Linked DNA regions of Homo sapiens: region 2 is linked to region 1. The links come from fine-mapping of genetic effects on gene expression. Tissue or cell type: thyroid. Region 1 holds a variant in brackets; the other region holds the start of a gene. All regions are shown on one strand. Distances are between the middles of the regions.

Evidence for each region. PIP is the estimated chance that this variant, and not a neighbour inherited with it, causes the effect.
Region 2: BRCC3 starts here. The variant in region 1 is fine-mapped to the expression of BRCC3 in thyroid (GTEx, PIP above 0.99).

What each region holds. Positions count from the first base shown.
Region 1 is chrX:155,104,507-155,112,506 of GRCh38, reverse strand. The region is part of intron 7 of BRCC3 (BRCA1/BRCA2-containing complex subunit 3); the gene reads right to left. Among named protein-coding and RNA genes, the nearest start is that of BRCC3, 37 kb to the right of the region's middle. The variant G/A (reference allele first, on the strand shown) is at 3,269.
Region 2 is chrX:155,068,183-155,076,391 of GRCh38, reverse strand. BRCC3 (BRCA1/BRCA2-containing complex subunit 3) reads right to left here and starts at 4,884. Exons shown (of 11, transcript NM_001018055.3): 1 at 4,742-4,884; 2 at 4,049-4,065; 3 at 2,961-3,015. The coding sequence starts at 4,864. CMC4 (C-X9-C motif containing 4) reads left to right here and starts at 5,256. Exons shown (of 3, transcript NM_001018024.3): 1 at 5,256-5,698. It overlaps MTCP1 (mature T cell proliferation 1), which reads left to right and starts at 5,256. Exons shown (of 5, transcript NM_001018025.4): 1 at 5,256-5,698. RefSeq lists enhancers at 3,901-4,622, 4,579-4,628, 4,639-4,858, 4,623-5,344, 5,329-5,628 and a silencer at 4,969-5,288.

The DNA.
Region 1 (8,000 bases):
TCAGTTACCTGTGGTCAACCACGGTCCAAAAATGTTAGATGAAAAATTCTAGAAATAAACAATTCATAAGCTTTAAGTTGCAGACCTTTCTGAGTAGCATGATGAAATCTTACGCCATCCTGCTCTAACCTGCCCAGGATATGAATCAACCCTTTGTCCATCTGATCCATACTGTATATGATACCTGCCCATTAGTCACTTGGTAACCATCAGATTGACTGTCACGGTATTGCAGTTCTAATGTTCAAATAACCCTTATTTTACTTAATAATGGCCCCAGAACATAGGAGCAGCAATGTTGGCAGTTCTGCTATGCCAAAGAGAAGCCCTAAAGTGCTTCATTTAAGTGAAATGATGAAAAGTATCCAACTTAATTTTAAAAAACGAGAACATATCATATGCTAATGCTGCTAAGGCCTATAGTAAGAACAAATCTTCTATCTTTGAAATTGTGAACAATATATTGTTATAATTGTTCTATTTTACTATTGTTGTTGTTAATCTCATACTGTGCCTAATTTATAAACTAAACTTTATCACAGGTGTGCGTGTATAAGAAAACATGGTGTAATAGGGGTCAGTACTATCTGTGGTTTCAGGCCTCCACTGGGGTTCTTGGAACATATTCCCCAAAGATAAGGGGAGACTGCTTTTTGTAATTTGCCACTATTTTTTCTGATTCTGTAGGTTATTTTCACCTTCTTGATAATGTGCTGTGATGCACAAAAGTTTTTAATTTTTATCAAATCCAATTTATCTGTTTTTCCTTTCTCCCTTGTGCATTTGATGTCATATTTAAGAAATTAGTGCCAAATTGAAGGTCATGAAGATGTACCCCTATGTTTTCTTCTAAAGTTGTATTGTTTTAGCTCTTCTATTTAGATCTTTGATCCATTTTAATTTTTGTATATTGGGTGAAGATAGTGGTCCAGCATTATTCTTTTTGCATGTGGATATCCAGCTGTCCCAGCACCATTTGTTGAATTGCCTCTTATTTCCCTGTTGAATTATCATGGCACAGTTGTTGAAGATCAATTGACCAGAAATGTACAGGTTGACTTATGGACTCACAATTCTATTCCACTGATTTATATGTCTATCCTTTGCTACCTTTTGTGGTTTTTCTACAGTTCTCTGAAACTCTGTCCCTTTTTTCCCAGTCTTTTCTGTCTGTTATCCAGCTTGGATAATTCTATTAATCTATCTTCAAGTTTACTGACTCTTTCCTCTGGCATTTCCACTGCATTCTCACTTTTAATCTAGAGTTTAAAATTTTTGGTTGTTATATTTTTCAGTTGTAAAATTTACATTTGCTTCTTTTTATCTTCTATTTCTTATATGATACTTTTTCTTTTTAAATATTTGTTGCAACATTTTTGTGACTGATAGCTTGAGCATTTTCATAATGGCAGCTTTTAAAGTCTTGTCAGATATTTCCAACATAAGTGTCATCTTGCCTTTTGTATCTGTTGATTATCTTCTCCCATACAAGATGAGATTTCTGTGGTTCTTAATATGTTAAATAACTTTGGTTTATGTCCTGGTTATTTTGGATATTAAGTTATGAGACTTTGGATCTTGTTTATATCCCCACTTCTGTGGTATTTTGAGTTTTGGGGCCCTTCTCCAATCTGCCTGTTATTTACATTCCAGAGTTCACAAATAGCTAGGCTTGGCATTCTTTCCAGAGTATATAGTTGAGTTCAGTGAGATATAGGGGCAGCATGTGTTGATTTCATCTTATGAAATATTTCTAAATAACACCTACATCAAAGTAAATCACAAGGGTAATAATATCACAAGGGAAATACTTTGAACTGAAGGATAGTAAATAAAAATTATGGATGTACCCAAAGCAGTGCTTAAAGGGACATTTATGGCTCTTTTGAAAAGACTGATATCATTAATAAACCCCCACCAAGACTGATCAAGGTAAAAACAGAGAACACAAAAATTACTAATGTAAGGAATGAAAAAAGAGAAATCACTTCGGATCCTACAAACTTTAAAAGAATAATAAGAAGATATTGTGAACAATGTAAACTAAAGTTCTAGGATAAATTCCTAGAAAAGCACAACTTGCCAAAACTAAAACGATACAGAAAATCAGAATAATCCTACATATTTTAAAGAAACTGAACCTATAATTTAAAACTTTACACAAAGAAAACTCCACACTGACATTGCTAATCTGTTACATTCTATCAAACATTTAAAGAAAAAACCCAAACTTACACAAACCATTTCAGAAAATCGAGATATGGGAACATTTTCTACTTTGTACTATGCAGCCAGCAAAACCATGATATCAAAATCTAGCAAAGGTGTTTAAAGAAAAGAAAATTATGGATCAATCTTATTTATGAAAAAGATATATAATTCCTAAAAAGATTAGCCTAGTGAATACACTAAAGAGATAATATACAGTGACTAAGGAATGCAAAGCTGGGTTAAGATTCAGAAATCAGTTCATGCGACTTACCACATTAAGGCAAATAATCATATGATTATCTTAATAAATGCAGAAGGAGCATTTGATAAAATTCAACATTCAATCATAAAAAAGAGGCTTAGAATACTAGAAATACAAGGGAACTTCCTTAATATGATAGAGGCTAACTACAGAAAAGCTAAATTAAACACCAGAGATAATTGGGAAATTTTAAAGCATTCTCTTTTACATTTTATTCATAAATTTTACTGGAAGACTGAGACAGTATAATAAGGCATGAAAGAGAAATAAAAAGGTGTAAAGATTGGAAAGGGTGAAATTAAATTGCCCTTGTTTATGGAAGACATGACTGTTTACATAGAAAATCCCAAGGAAATAAAATCTGCAGATAAATCATTAGGATTAATAAGTACATTTATATCCATAAGGCTGCTGGATATAAAGCCAATATACATATATCAATTTGCTATCTAAATAACCGGTACCAACTGGAAAATTATGAAAAGATACCAATTACAATAACATAAAACACCAAATTCCCAAGAATAATTTAAATGAAAGATGTGTGCAATCTTTTCAGATGTTTCACAGAAAAATACAAAAGATAGAGAAATTAAAATCTAAATAAATGGAGGGATACATCAAATTGATGAATGGATTCAATTCTATCCCAGTCAAATTTCAGCTGACATGTTTCAGCAAGTTTTCTTGTGGAAATCAACAAACCGATTTTAAAATTTATATGGGGCTACAAAGGGCGAAGAATAGCCAAGACAGTCTTGAAGAATAACAACAAAGGGGAGAACTAATGTTACC[G/A]CATATCATCAAGACTTATTATAAAGCTACAGCAACTAAGTGTGTTACTGACACAAGGATAGACACATAGACAAAACAGAATTCGCCTAGAGTCCAGAAACATAATCATATATATAGGGACGACTGATTTAAGGCAAAGTGGCAAGGCAGCAATAAATGGTGCCAGGTCAATTGGATACACACGTGGGAAAAAGGGAATGTCAACTCACATCCCACATCATATCCTAAAGTTAACACTAAGTAGATTGTAGATTTAAGCACGAATGGTGAAATAATAAAGCATCTCTTCCAGATAGGGAAAGATGTCTTAAATAGTGTAGGACACTAAAAAGCACTAGATCGAAAAGATAAAAAGATAATTTGGACTATTATATTAAATAAACAACTTAGGCTCATCAAATGATACCATTAAGATAGTGAAAACCAGGTCAGGGTGAGAGAGTAGATACTTGGAATAGGTATAGCTGACAGCTTGTATCCAGAACATACTGGAATTCTTTTGAAGTACTAAGAAAGTTAAAGAAAAATGAATATGACTTATACATGAGGGGATATCCAAAAAGCCTATAAACATTTGAAAAGGTGTTCAACCTAATTAGTCACTGGGGAAATCCAAATTAAAACCACAATAAGATACTACTGCACACTCACCAGAACTGCAAAAAATGAAAAAGTCAGAAAATACTAATTGTCAGTGAAGCTGTTAAGCTGTGAAAACCTTCATACACTGTTGGCAAGGATGTGAATTTGGAAACTATTCTACTAAAGTGATAACCCAGCAATTCCACTTCTGTGTACATACTGAAAAGATATGCATTCACATGGGCAAAAAGAGGCTTATGTAAGGATTATTTTCATAGCAGCTTTATTCATAAGAGCCCCAAATTGGAAACAACCCAAATGCCTAACAATAGAACATATAAGTAAATTGTGGTAATTTCCAACAATGAAATATTACACAGCAATAAAAAAGAACTACCATAACAGAGTGAAAGAAGCCATACACAAAGTTGTACTTACCGTATTTTCCCATTTATATAAAATTCAAAAACAGACAAAATTAATCTGTGTTGTTAGAGATTAGGATAATGGTTACCTTTGGGAAAAAAACAAGGGCATAACAATTGAGAGGAGTCACAAAGGAGGCTTCTGGAGGGCTGGTAAGGTTCTATTTCTTGATATGTAGTACAGTTTCACAGGCGTTCACCTTGTAAAAATTCATGGAGCTGATCTGGGTTGTGGTTGCATAGGTGTTTTCATTTTGTGAAAATTGATTGAGCTGGACACTTGTAATTTGTGTACTTTTCTGTATGTTACACTTCAATTGAAAAGCTAAGACCAACCAACCAAACTAAGTTTATGACAAAGAAGCTCTAGAGTATGCTAGAGCTCACAGGTCAGAATGTATGCATTAAAATAGTAGTTTTGAAATCTACAGCTGAAGGGACACTAAACAAATATTTACTGAACACCATGGGAACAGTAATAAAAAAGCATACCTTCTTTCAAGGATCTTACAATGTTAGTGGAAAAACAAAATATTAAAATATAATGTTATAAGTATTACAAAAAGGAAGTATATGATTTTATTAAGTTTCCAGGAGGAATGCTTAACTGGGATGGTATTGGGGGTTGAGAATTATCAGAGAAGGATTCCTAAATTTGATCTTCATCTTCAAAAATGACTAGACATTGGCCAGGTGGTATAAGGAAAAAGGAAACTGTAGGCAGAGTGAGCATATGACAGAGAGAGAACATGGCTGGAGAAATAAGCAAACCATGAAGGGCTGCAGGTTTGGGGCTTTATTCTGAGGGCATTAGGGAGCAGGATCATTTTAGAATAGCTACACCATGATACCAAATTGAAAGGAAGTAAAATGGGTGAGTGCTAAAATTAAAGAACTTTTAAAAAAAAAAATAAATAAAAATACTACTTAGCATCTATGGGATATATTTAAAGCAAAGATCAGTGGAAAATTCACAGCCTTAAGCATTTATATCAATAATAATGAAAGACAAAAAATATACTCATTAAATTCCAAACTCCAAATGCTAAGATAAGCACAACAAAATGACCAAAATGAAACATAAGGAAGGAAATAATAAACATAAAAGAAAAAGTAGTAAGGTTGGGAATAGAAAAAAAATAACTAAATAAAAATCAGTGTTTCAAGGAAAAATAACAAAATTGACACACCACTGGCTAACATAACCAAGGGAAAAAAGAAATAGCACAAATATACAAAATATGAAATGACAAGGGGGAGATAACTATTGAAATACAAGAGATTTAAAATATGACAGACTATCTGGCAGAGAGATCTCTGTGTAAATAAATTTGCAAACCATAAAAAATGAATAATTTCTTAGGAAACTGTACCAAAATTGACCCCATTACAGAAAGAAAGCATAAACAGATAAATTCCCAGAGGAGAAACACAAAAAGGCCTAGTTGATTTCATAGAGGAATTGTCAAAGAACTGATTGTCTCACTGCTACTTACATTTCTGTCACAGCCTAGACAGTGAAAGAAAACTCCAAACAATTCTTCTGAAGCAAGTGTAATATATATACCTAAACCTGATAAAGACAGTACAAAAAAAGAATATTTCTGATAGCACTTATGATTTTTCCTGAATACAGAATCTTTCTTAATGAAGAAATGCTACAGGAATTTCCATAAGGATCAGAAACAAAACAAGATCATCTACTATTTCCACTACTATTTAATGTTCTAAAGAAGATATTAGGCAATGCAGTTATATTTAAGGAATCAATTAGAGGTTTAGGAATTGGGAAATAAGTAAAAGTATTTGCAGATGGAGTGTGATACTTATCTGGAAAGCTCTAGAGAAATAAAGGTATAATTAACTCAAAGAACAAAAGAATTCAGGAAGATAAAAATTTACATACAGAAATAGTAGCCTTCAAATATACAAGCAAAAAACAGAGGATGTAATAGAAAAAAAACATTAACAAAGCAAAAAAGAAGTTAAATGCTTAAGAATAAATTTCAGTATGACATATACAAAACCTATATGAGAAAAACAACACTCCCGAAAGACACAAAAGTAGACTACAGCAAGTGGAAAGACAGCCAGTGCTCTTGGATAGGATGATGCAACATCACAGATTAATTTATAAATTTAACACAATCTCAATAGAAATATCAAAAAGTTTTTATCTGGAGCTAGACAAGTTGATAGTAAGGTTCACATGAAAAACCAAACATGTAAGAATAGTCAGGGTCTTGGATGGGCGTGGTGGCTCAAGCCTGGGCTCACACCTGTAATCCCAGCACTTTGGGAGGTTGGGAGTTCGAGACCAGCTTGGGCAACATGGTGAAACCCTGTCTCCACTAAAAATACAAAAATTAGCCAGGTGTGATGGCACGTGCCTGTAATCCCTGCTACTCAGGAGTCTGAGACAGGAGAACAGCTTGATCCCGGGAGGCAGAGGCTGCTGTGAGCCAAGATCGCACCACTGCACTCCAGCCTGGACAACTGGGCGAGACTCCGTCTCAAAACAAAACAAAACAAAAAGAATAGTCAGGGAAACACTGAGAAAAGAAAAGCTACAATGGAGACTAGCCCTATGGATAATAAAACATACAATAAAGCCACCATAATTTATGTGATGGTAACTAAATGGACAGACAGAATAAAAAGAAAGAGATCCAAGTGAATAGGGAGCTTTCATATATGGTAAAAGGTGGCATGTAAAATTGCTGACATGAAGATAAGCTTTTTTTTAATTATTATTTTCCCTCACTCTGTCGCCCAGGCTGGAGGGCAGTGGCACAATCTCGGCTCACTGCAACCTCCGCCTCCCGGGTTCAAGCAATTCTCCTGCCTCAGCCTCCCGAGTAGCTGGGATTACAGGCATGCGCCACCACACTTGGCTAATTTTTGTATTTTTAGTAGAGATGGGGTTTCACCATGTTGGGCAGGCTGTTCTCGAACTCCTGACCTCAAGTGATCCACGCGCCTCGGCCTCCCAAAGTGCTGGGATTACAGACATGAGCCACTGTGCCCACCTAACACAAACTTTTTAAACAATGGTTTTGTAACAGGTAGATTGCCATTTAGAAAGAGATAAAATTAGATTCATATCTTAGTCTATACAAAATTAACTCTATATAGTTCTGACTTTTGACTTTTTGAACCATGTTGATGTTTCATATACTCTAAAAGGGAAAAAAGTATGAGTTAAAAAAAATCCTAAAATGGAAAACAAGCAAACAAGAAAAAGCTGTCTTTCAAATAAATCATATAACCACACTGAAGTGGTCAGGGGGAAAATAGACTGAACCCAGCTAAGTATTTTGAGTATACACTCTTAGGCATATGTCCAAACTCATCAAAATGTGTACATTAAATATGTGCAATTCTGCATGTTAATTATACCTCAATAAAGCTTAATAAAAAGAACTGTGAATATGAAAAAGGAGAATGCTAGGATGAACCTTAAAGTATGGAAATAGAATTGGAGTTATCAGGTTGAACTCAGAGGTAAACTGGAGAAAGTTTCCCAGCTGAAGCACAAGGAGAACCCCCAGGTAGGGCTTGGCAGATGCCGAGTTGAGAAAATGGAGCTGAGACTCTGGGAAGGCCAAGATAGCTTGTGTTTGCAAAGTAAAGTACCGTAGAGGAAAGAGCTGCATAGGAAGAGAAACAACATGTCCAGACCCTCCAGTGAACTCCAAAGTATGCACAGGGGCAGGAATAGCATC
Region 2 (8,209 bases), 36 kb after region 1:
TTTTTGACACAGTCTCAGTCTGTCGCCCAGGCTGGAGTGCAGTAGTGCAATCTCAGCTCACTGCAACGTCTACCTCCTGGGTTCAAGCGATTCTCCCACCTCAGCCTCCTCAGCAGCTGGGATTACAGGCACACGCCACCATGCCCGGCTTTTTGTATTTTTTGGTAGCCATATTGGCTAGGCTGGTCTCAAACTCCTGACTTCAGGCCTGCCTCGACCTCTCGAAGTGCTGGGATTACAGGCATAACCCACCGCACCCGGCCTCAGAGAGTTCTTTACAGTGTGATAACAGACTAATACAGGAGCTCAGAGGAAAGAACTCACTTATATTAGAAAAGTAATCTTTTACATAAGCAGAATATGAATCTAAAAAAGAAAAAAATCTTCATAGAAAAGGCAGACAAGTGTATCCATTCCTTGATTATTGTGGGAAGTGGGGGGAACAGATTTTCTACAGGTGCCGAATGGAAGTAGTAAAGTGTGAATGAGGTGTCTGGGAGACAACTTACCCAACTGATTTAGATACAGAGCTTGAGGTGAAATGGCAGATGGCAAAGCTAAGAAAGTTGGAGTGAGAATGTACAAGACCTCAAATGCCAAGCCATAATTTGCAGGATGAACTCGAAGGAAAAAAAATTATTTCAGATAAACTGTACATGAAGTAACAATGAAGTACTGGGCTAAGCAGATGGCAGAGATGGAAGAAACAGATTTGAGACCCATTAAAAAGAATGAATCTACAAGATTTGGTAGCTTATGGACCATGGGTGATGGTGGACAGGAAACGGTCAAAGAGGACTCTAAAGTTTCAAGGTTGAAACTAGGTAGAACGTGTGAGGCAGATCTAAGTTTAGAAAGGGTCAGGAAGGAAAGAAGATGAGCTTGTTTTCAGATGAGATAATCTGGGATGAGAGATATACAATATGGCAATTTTTAGCAGGCAAGTGGGATTATAGCTTAGACTCAAACAGCATCAATGCAGGAATCAATAAAGCATTTATGAGTGGACAAAAAAGGTGTGGAGAAAGGGAGCAGAGGTCTTGGCCTGAATCAAGGGGAGTGGCCACATTTAGTGTGGGGAAGAACAAGAAGGGCCAGGGGAAAGAGTGGGCTTAGCATTATCAGATGTTGAAGGGACAAGGGTGAAATCTGAGAGAAGGCTTTTGAAACAAGCTATAGATTTTCACTGTGCAACAGGTCTGATTTCAGATATGCAGCAAGTATGAAATACACATGGAATTCAAAGACAACACAAAAGAGAAAAAAGGAATGTAAAATATCTCAACATTTCTTAATATTCACTACATATTAAAATAATAATCCTTCAGATACTTAGGTTAACTAAAATACACCCTTCAAATTAATTTCATTTATTCCTTTTTACTGTGATTACTAAAAAATTTAAAATTATGTATATGGATCACATTCGTGGCTCACATGATATTTCTTTTTTTGTGGTTTATTTTTGTTTTGTTTTTCAACTGAATACTCCACTTAAAAAGATTATCACACTGGATTTTTTAAAAAGTATTTACCACTAATAAGAGACACAAGAGACACATTTTAAATATTAGTATACAGAAAGGCTAAAAATAAAAGGATAAAAAATACACTATGCAACACTAAAAAGGCAGCTTAACTAATAAAGTTTAATATCTAATTTAGACAGTACAAACTGACATAAAACTCAAGACGAGGGCATGAAATCTTGAATAATAAAATTACATTATTAAGATTGGAATGTATCTTAGTAACTGATGCCCAGGGTGAATTGTTTCTTTCTCTCTTTCTTGCTTTAGTCAGAGATTTCAGTGCCTAAGAGGAATGAGTAATATTTAATGCATAGACAGAGGAGGAAGAGGAGTCCACAAAGGATTGTGGGAAGGGGGAAACAGGAATAAAGGCAATACAACAAAACCAACAAAAACTCATGAGAGTTTAGAGATTCAAGGAGAAAGATGAAGATAAGCACCAGGAAATAATCCACCGAAGGTAGAATTAGAAACCAGACCTCAGTGGGTTTGACTGGGGAAGGTGAAGGAGTAGTAATTGTAGCCCATTCTTTTAAGAAGTCTGGCTATTAAAGGAAGGATATAAGAGTACTGACTACAGGAAGATACGGGATTAAGAAGTAGCTTTCCTTTCTGAAAATGAGAGTAATTTAAGCATATGTTTATCCTAAAAGAACCAGGTGACAGGGAGAAGACCCAGAAAAGAGACAGAACATTTGATAAACAAGGTCTCTGAAGAAGCTGCAGCTTTGGATAGGAAGAGGACTTATTTCTTTGATATGGGAAGAGATGCAAAGTGATTAAGGTGGAGAAGTTTGTAACTAGTAGTAATAAGTAGATGAAGGTGTGGCCTGATAACTTGGTGGGAGGAGGGGAAGTAATTCATTTTTTTTGTATTTTACAAAAGCATCGGTCTGTGACAGACTGGGGGAAACGTTAACTGGTCCGATACCACGATTAGGTGAGAAGCATTACACTAGACCATCAAGGCTAGAGCATGCCACAAAAGATGGTGTAGGAGTGCAGATAGGAAAAAAGTCAAGGCAGACTAAGAACTATGATGCTATGGTCAGTTTGCCTGTTTAAGAAGAGAGGGCTGCATGAGTAGATGTTGGAATTCGAGATAAAGAGGTAATAGTGATGTGAAAGTATCAAGGATGCCAAAGTATCAAGGAAAGTGGGAGAAGGGCCAGAAAACAGGCAGTGACAGCAAGGAGAGCAGCAAGAGGGTGGTACTGACAGTGATTATTAATCTTGATCAAGTAGAGACAATTTGCTACAAAGAACAGAAAATTAGGTCCCATTCCTAGTGAGTAGATTCTTCATCTGATTTTACTAGAAAGAATATCTCATCCAGCCAGAAACCGCATACTCTGGCTGAGATCACTGGATTACAGAAATCTTTCCCCAACTGCAAGTTTCCATCATGCAAAATTTTAGCACACATACCTTTTCAGCAACTGTGCGCATTTCAGTTCCAGTATATGCAAATTTGGAGTCACTCCTACTGGGAATAAATTAGAAAAAAAAAAAGGAAGTGGGGTTTGGAATATAAAAAGGAATTAAAGCAAAATAACAGGATTAACTGTTTTTGCAATGAAATCTTAGCAGAGACCAAAGAAGAGGAGGGAAACTGAATTGAGGCTAGAGCTGCACTCTATCTGTTAGAAGCAATCTGGGACACATGCACAAGTGGCTGAGTGTATAAAGTTATAATGGACAAAGCTAAATTCCTGGAATCCTGGGAACTAAGGAGGTGGGCTTGAGAAGTATACTATGGTATGATTTGAAGTTTAAATTAAAATGTTACCGAAAGGTTTCACCACGTCAAGTATTGAAGCTACTGGGGATCTCTGAGATCACTGAGGTCCATCAGGAGGAAAGGCAATGTCACTGTCAATTTACGTGAAGGAATGGATCAATGGGGAAATGCCTCTAAACGTATATGCTCTCTGTCACTAAGAAAATTACTGATATCTCACTGGCATTTAAGGGGAGACAGAACATGAAATACACTGAGCAAGGCCAGGTGTGGTGGCTCACGCCTGAAATTCCAGCACTTGGGGAGGTCGAGGTGGGCAGACTGCTTGAGCCAGGAGTTCGAGACCAGCCTGGCCAACATGGTGAAACCCCGTCTGTACAAAAAAAAAAGACAGCCGGGTGTGGTGGCGGGCACCTGTAATCTCAGCTATTCGGGAGTCTGAAGTATGAGAATCGCTTGAACCTGGGAGGCGGAGGTTGCAGTGAGCAGAGATCGCGCCACTGCACTCCAGCCTGGGCGACAGAGTGAGGCTCTGTCTCACCCCTAAAACGCAACAATTATGATAATGCTTATTAAGATGTTTATCCCATATCTCAACTGAATAGGAGGTAAGGCAGAAACCAAAGTTCAAGGTTGTATCATTAAGGGAGCCCCGGAGTGATAATGGTAATTAATTTAAGACACGATCCGGACACAATACTGCCAAAGTCGCCATAATTTTAGGTTAACAATGACTTAGAGATTATAAGATATGAGTAAACAAATACAGTCTTACCTTGTATCATCGTTCAACTAGAGTGGGAAAAAGCAAAAAACATTATTGATCACATTACGTTTGTTTGACATATATGGATGCAGATTATATGACAATTAGGTCATGTGTTCACGCACATGGTATGAAAGACTGGAGAATTACTTTAGACTGTAAACAGCTAAACTGTATTTCCTCATCCTCTTCGGCCCCTCCTCAACACAATGCAGCGGAAACTTTTGCTTCCTTCAAGCCCCGCACCTTCTGTTAGGCTCTTCGATACCCTTCAAATGCTTTGGTTGATATCTCTGCTCCCTAGACAGAAGACTCGAGGCGAGGCAAGGGGCTCTAACTGTGGTCAGCTGCTGCGTCGTAATACCCGGACATCCTCATTATACTCCAGTGTCTTTCTGACCTGCCTTGCAGTTTTGGTCAACCGGGCGAAAAGCGCAGATCTAAAGAGAAGCCCCAGGCTACAGGAGAAAGGGCAAGGCTCCCGGGGCCTGTACAGACCGCCGGGGGCTCGCAGGAGACTAAACAAGTGTCAGGCGGCCAGAAGAAACGGGGCTCCCCGCGACAGAGCTATGTAAAGGGTGTCCAAGGACCTAAATCGAGGATGCCTGTGGCCTCCGCAGCCCTGGGAGCTGCCGGCACCCACCCCGGGGACACACTGGGACTGCTCAGCAGGGTTCCATCCAGGCTAACAGACCTACTCACCTCCCCTATGCACAGCCCCATTACTTCCTCCTTCTCTGTGCTCAGAGCGTGGTTGAGACAAACGAGGAAAGCGTCAGACTCGAGATGAACCGCCTGCACCGCCTGCACCACCTGCACCGCCATCTTGGCCCGACCCTTCTCACGTCCGCCTCGGGCCCACTTGGTCCTGACCAACCGGGTGCTGCGGCGCAGCCTCCCCAGCGCCCAGCGCTGTGCGCTCCGCCCAGGCCTGGCCTTCGGCGCGCGGGTTCCTAGGGGGCGGGGCTTAGGGAGCGGGCGGGGCTGTGGGGGCGGGGCTGTGGGGGCGAGGAGGGGGCAGCGGGCGCGCGGCTGGCGCGCGGGGGCGGGCCTTGGGGCACGGGGGCGGGGCCCGCCCAGCAGCACCTGGGAAACGCCCGCGCGGTTTGGGGCAGGCGTGGCCGTCGGGGCGGAGGGCGGTGGCCGGCCGCGGTCCGGGCGTCAGGCCGGGCGGCGGGGGCGGCAGGGAGGCGGCGCTCTGGGGCCGCAGGCGGACGTACTCTGTGAGCGGCGCCCGGGCGCCTGGGCAGGCGCCTCCCGAGTACCGGCGCCCATTTTGCCCGCCCGCTAAGGAGACCCGTGCGCGGCCTACACGCTTGGGGGACAGCCCTTTAAGACGACATCTCCGCGAACGCCGGCCTCTTGAGCCAGGGGGACGCTCTTTTGAAAGTCAGTCCCAAAACAGTTAAGGTTTTATTTTATTTTGTTTTATTTCCAAGTCACAGCCCCCGAATCTCGTACAACTCTCCCTGGACCACTTCCGGTTGCCGGCCCGCGCCTCATAACTTCGGTTCGAGTGACCTCGGCCCGGGATGCCCCTCGGCTCACCCCGGGCTCACGTCGCGATCCTGGCTTGAGTGGCCCAGGGTGGGAGACCTGGAAGTTTTAGCCTAGCTGTTCTCAAGGCGGATTAATTAGCCCAAGAAACATTATATTCATGTGAGTAACCTTTTGCAGAAACAGTGTTATACTGTATCTGAAAAAGTATCACTCTTAAGCTTGGCTGCTGCTACTTTCTACAAAGGCTTTTAGGTAGCTATTTGTTGGATACAGGGAAGGGGAAATGGAGAACTTCAGTTTTTATTCAAGTTCGGATGTATCACATTAGGTATCCAGAATGCAAGTTTCCTCGGGTCTCCTTGTCTCGATGATATCAGACAGTAAAAATATATGTAAAAGTAATTTTTATTTCGAGGTATGTCAAACGTGCCAAGGATAAAAGTACAGATCTTCCAACTCACAAGTCTAGGAATCACACGTGGATTTTGAAAGCGATTCTAAATCAAAGCACAATATATGCCGTGCCGCCTCCACAGCCCGTCCGTGTTCGTGTCTTTGATTTGGTTTTCTACTTTGTGTAGTTTTGAAGCCAGGCAGGTATGGCAGTACTGGAAAGGGAACATTCCCAAGGTGCTACTTGAAGTGTTGATGCTTTGCTCTTTTCTCCCAAGTCAGTTCCAACCCAAGTCTCCCCACACATAGGGTCCCCATCCAGTGCAACGATCTGTAATGTGCACGCCAGCAGCCTCCGTTTTTACCTAACGATCTGTAAGGATCACATGGCACATCTTTCTATAATTAATTTGATCATGATGAAGGTTGGAAAATTTTCGTGTGCAGTTACATTGGACCTGTCTAAATTTTCTCTTGTTTCAATTTTATATCATATGTTATTTTCAGTTACTGTTTGTGGCTAGTATGCCCCGTCCTCATGGAGCAGGAACGGCTGTTCTTATTATTATGACATTAACATTTGGTGATGGGATATAGTGCCTTTAGGCACTTTCAAGAAGAAAAATACCTTTTGTTTGTTATCGGCGGTAGTCAATCTCATATTCCAGAATGAGGTTCACTAACTTTTCTAATGCTCATGGCTGCCTTTTACAGCTCCAGGCATTTAACTGGAGTAGAACAAAATTATTAACATTTATGGCAAGCTTATTATATGCTAGATACTAAGCATTTATATGCCTGGTACATGTAAACTGCCCCATTTGGAGTCAAGCTCAACAACTTCCCCACTGTGTGACCTTGAGCAAGTTACCTAACTTCTCTGTGCCTTTCTTTTCCTCACCTTTAAGTGGGGATGATAATAATTCTGCCCACCTCATAGCGCCCTATGAAGATTGTGAAAATTAAATGAGTCAATATATGTAAACATATAGGAAATGCTAAATAAAGACTATCATGATTAATATGTTCTTTAATTCTCATTTTACACCTCAGGAAACTGAGGTGGAGAGACGTTAACTTGTCCAAGGTCACAAAGCTAGTAAGTGACAGACTCAGGACTCATACACAGGCCTGGGCCTGTGTTCTTGGTAATTTCACTCATTGTAATTGGACGAGTTTATTAATTGACTTCTAATAAAATAAGTGTATTCAACTGATCAATGTTTAAAAACTGTTCATCAACCTGGCAATTAAAGCAAACTATACTTTTTTAAAAAAGACACAAAAGAATTTATTCTGTAAAGGAAAAATGATAGTTTTACTTAGATTACTACCTAAGGAAGCCCTTCTATCTTATATGTCATCCATTTAAAACCTAATTTACAAAATGCCTTACTAAGAAATTGTCTGTCTTGGCCAGTGTGCTCTCTGGCCCCGAAATCAAGGTGACCCTCATGGGGACAATCTCTTCTAGTGGATGATAAAGTTATGCAGTTATCTAAACATTTTTGGAATTCATTTGTATTTGTAGCTGGCAGTATTCCTTGAGTTGAGTTGCACAAGTTTATATTCCATGTATTGTATTGCACCTTGTACCTAAGTCTATGTTGAGGTTTTAAAAGATTCGTCTTAGTTCGAGAAGTCCTGAATTTTGTAAACAAGTATCATGTGCAAATAAAATGTTCTCTAGTCAAATAAATTTGGGAAATGTTAACATAAAGTTTCTTTACTGCATAACTTGCCAGAACAGTTACTACACTAATGTGCTTTATGACTCTCCAAGATTCCCAAACTTATTTGACCAAGGAAAATGTTGGGAGCAAGTTTTCTAAGAATCACATTTTTCCACTCATAAAACCTGTGATTGTATAGGCTTTGATCTGAATCCCTCTCCCTCAGCCTTTGCATTTCTCTGCTGAGGACTTTGTTCATGCTCATATGGTGACTTCTCTGTCCCTTGATCACTGCAGTTGTCTTTCTCTGGGCCTGCATGCCCTCTGAATGCTAGCACACACAATTCCAGGATACTGTGCTGAGAGGTGGTTCCCAAGCTCATCCCGCTGATGCCCAGCATGTTGACCTTTGGGTCACAGCAGCACATCACACTGCCTTTCTTCTGAGAATATTTTGTAGTGACTCATAGGCCTCTTTGTAGTGACTCAGTAACTCAGACCATCATCTCCAAACTCTTTGCCCTCTATTCCACTGGCATTATTTCCTTTTAATGTCAATATAACCAATGCAATTTTGTTTTCCATTCAAAACAAATTTAAATGT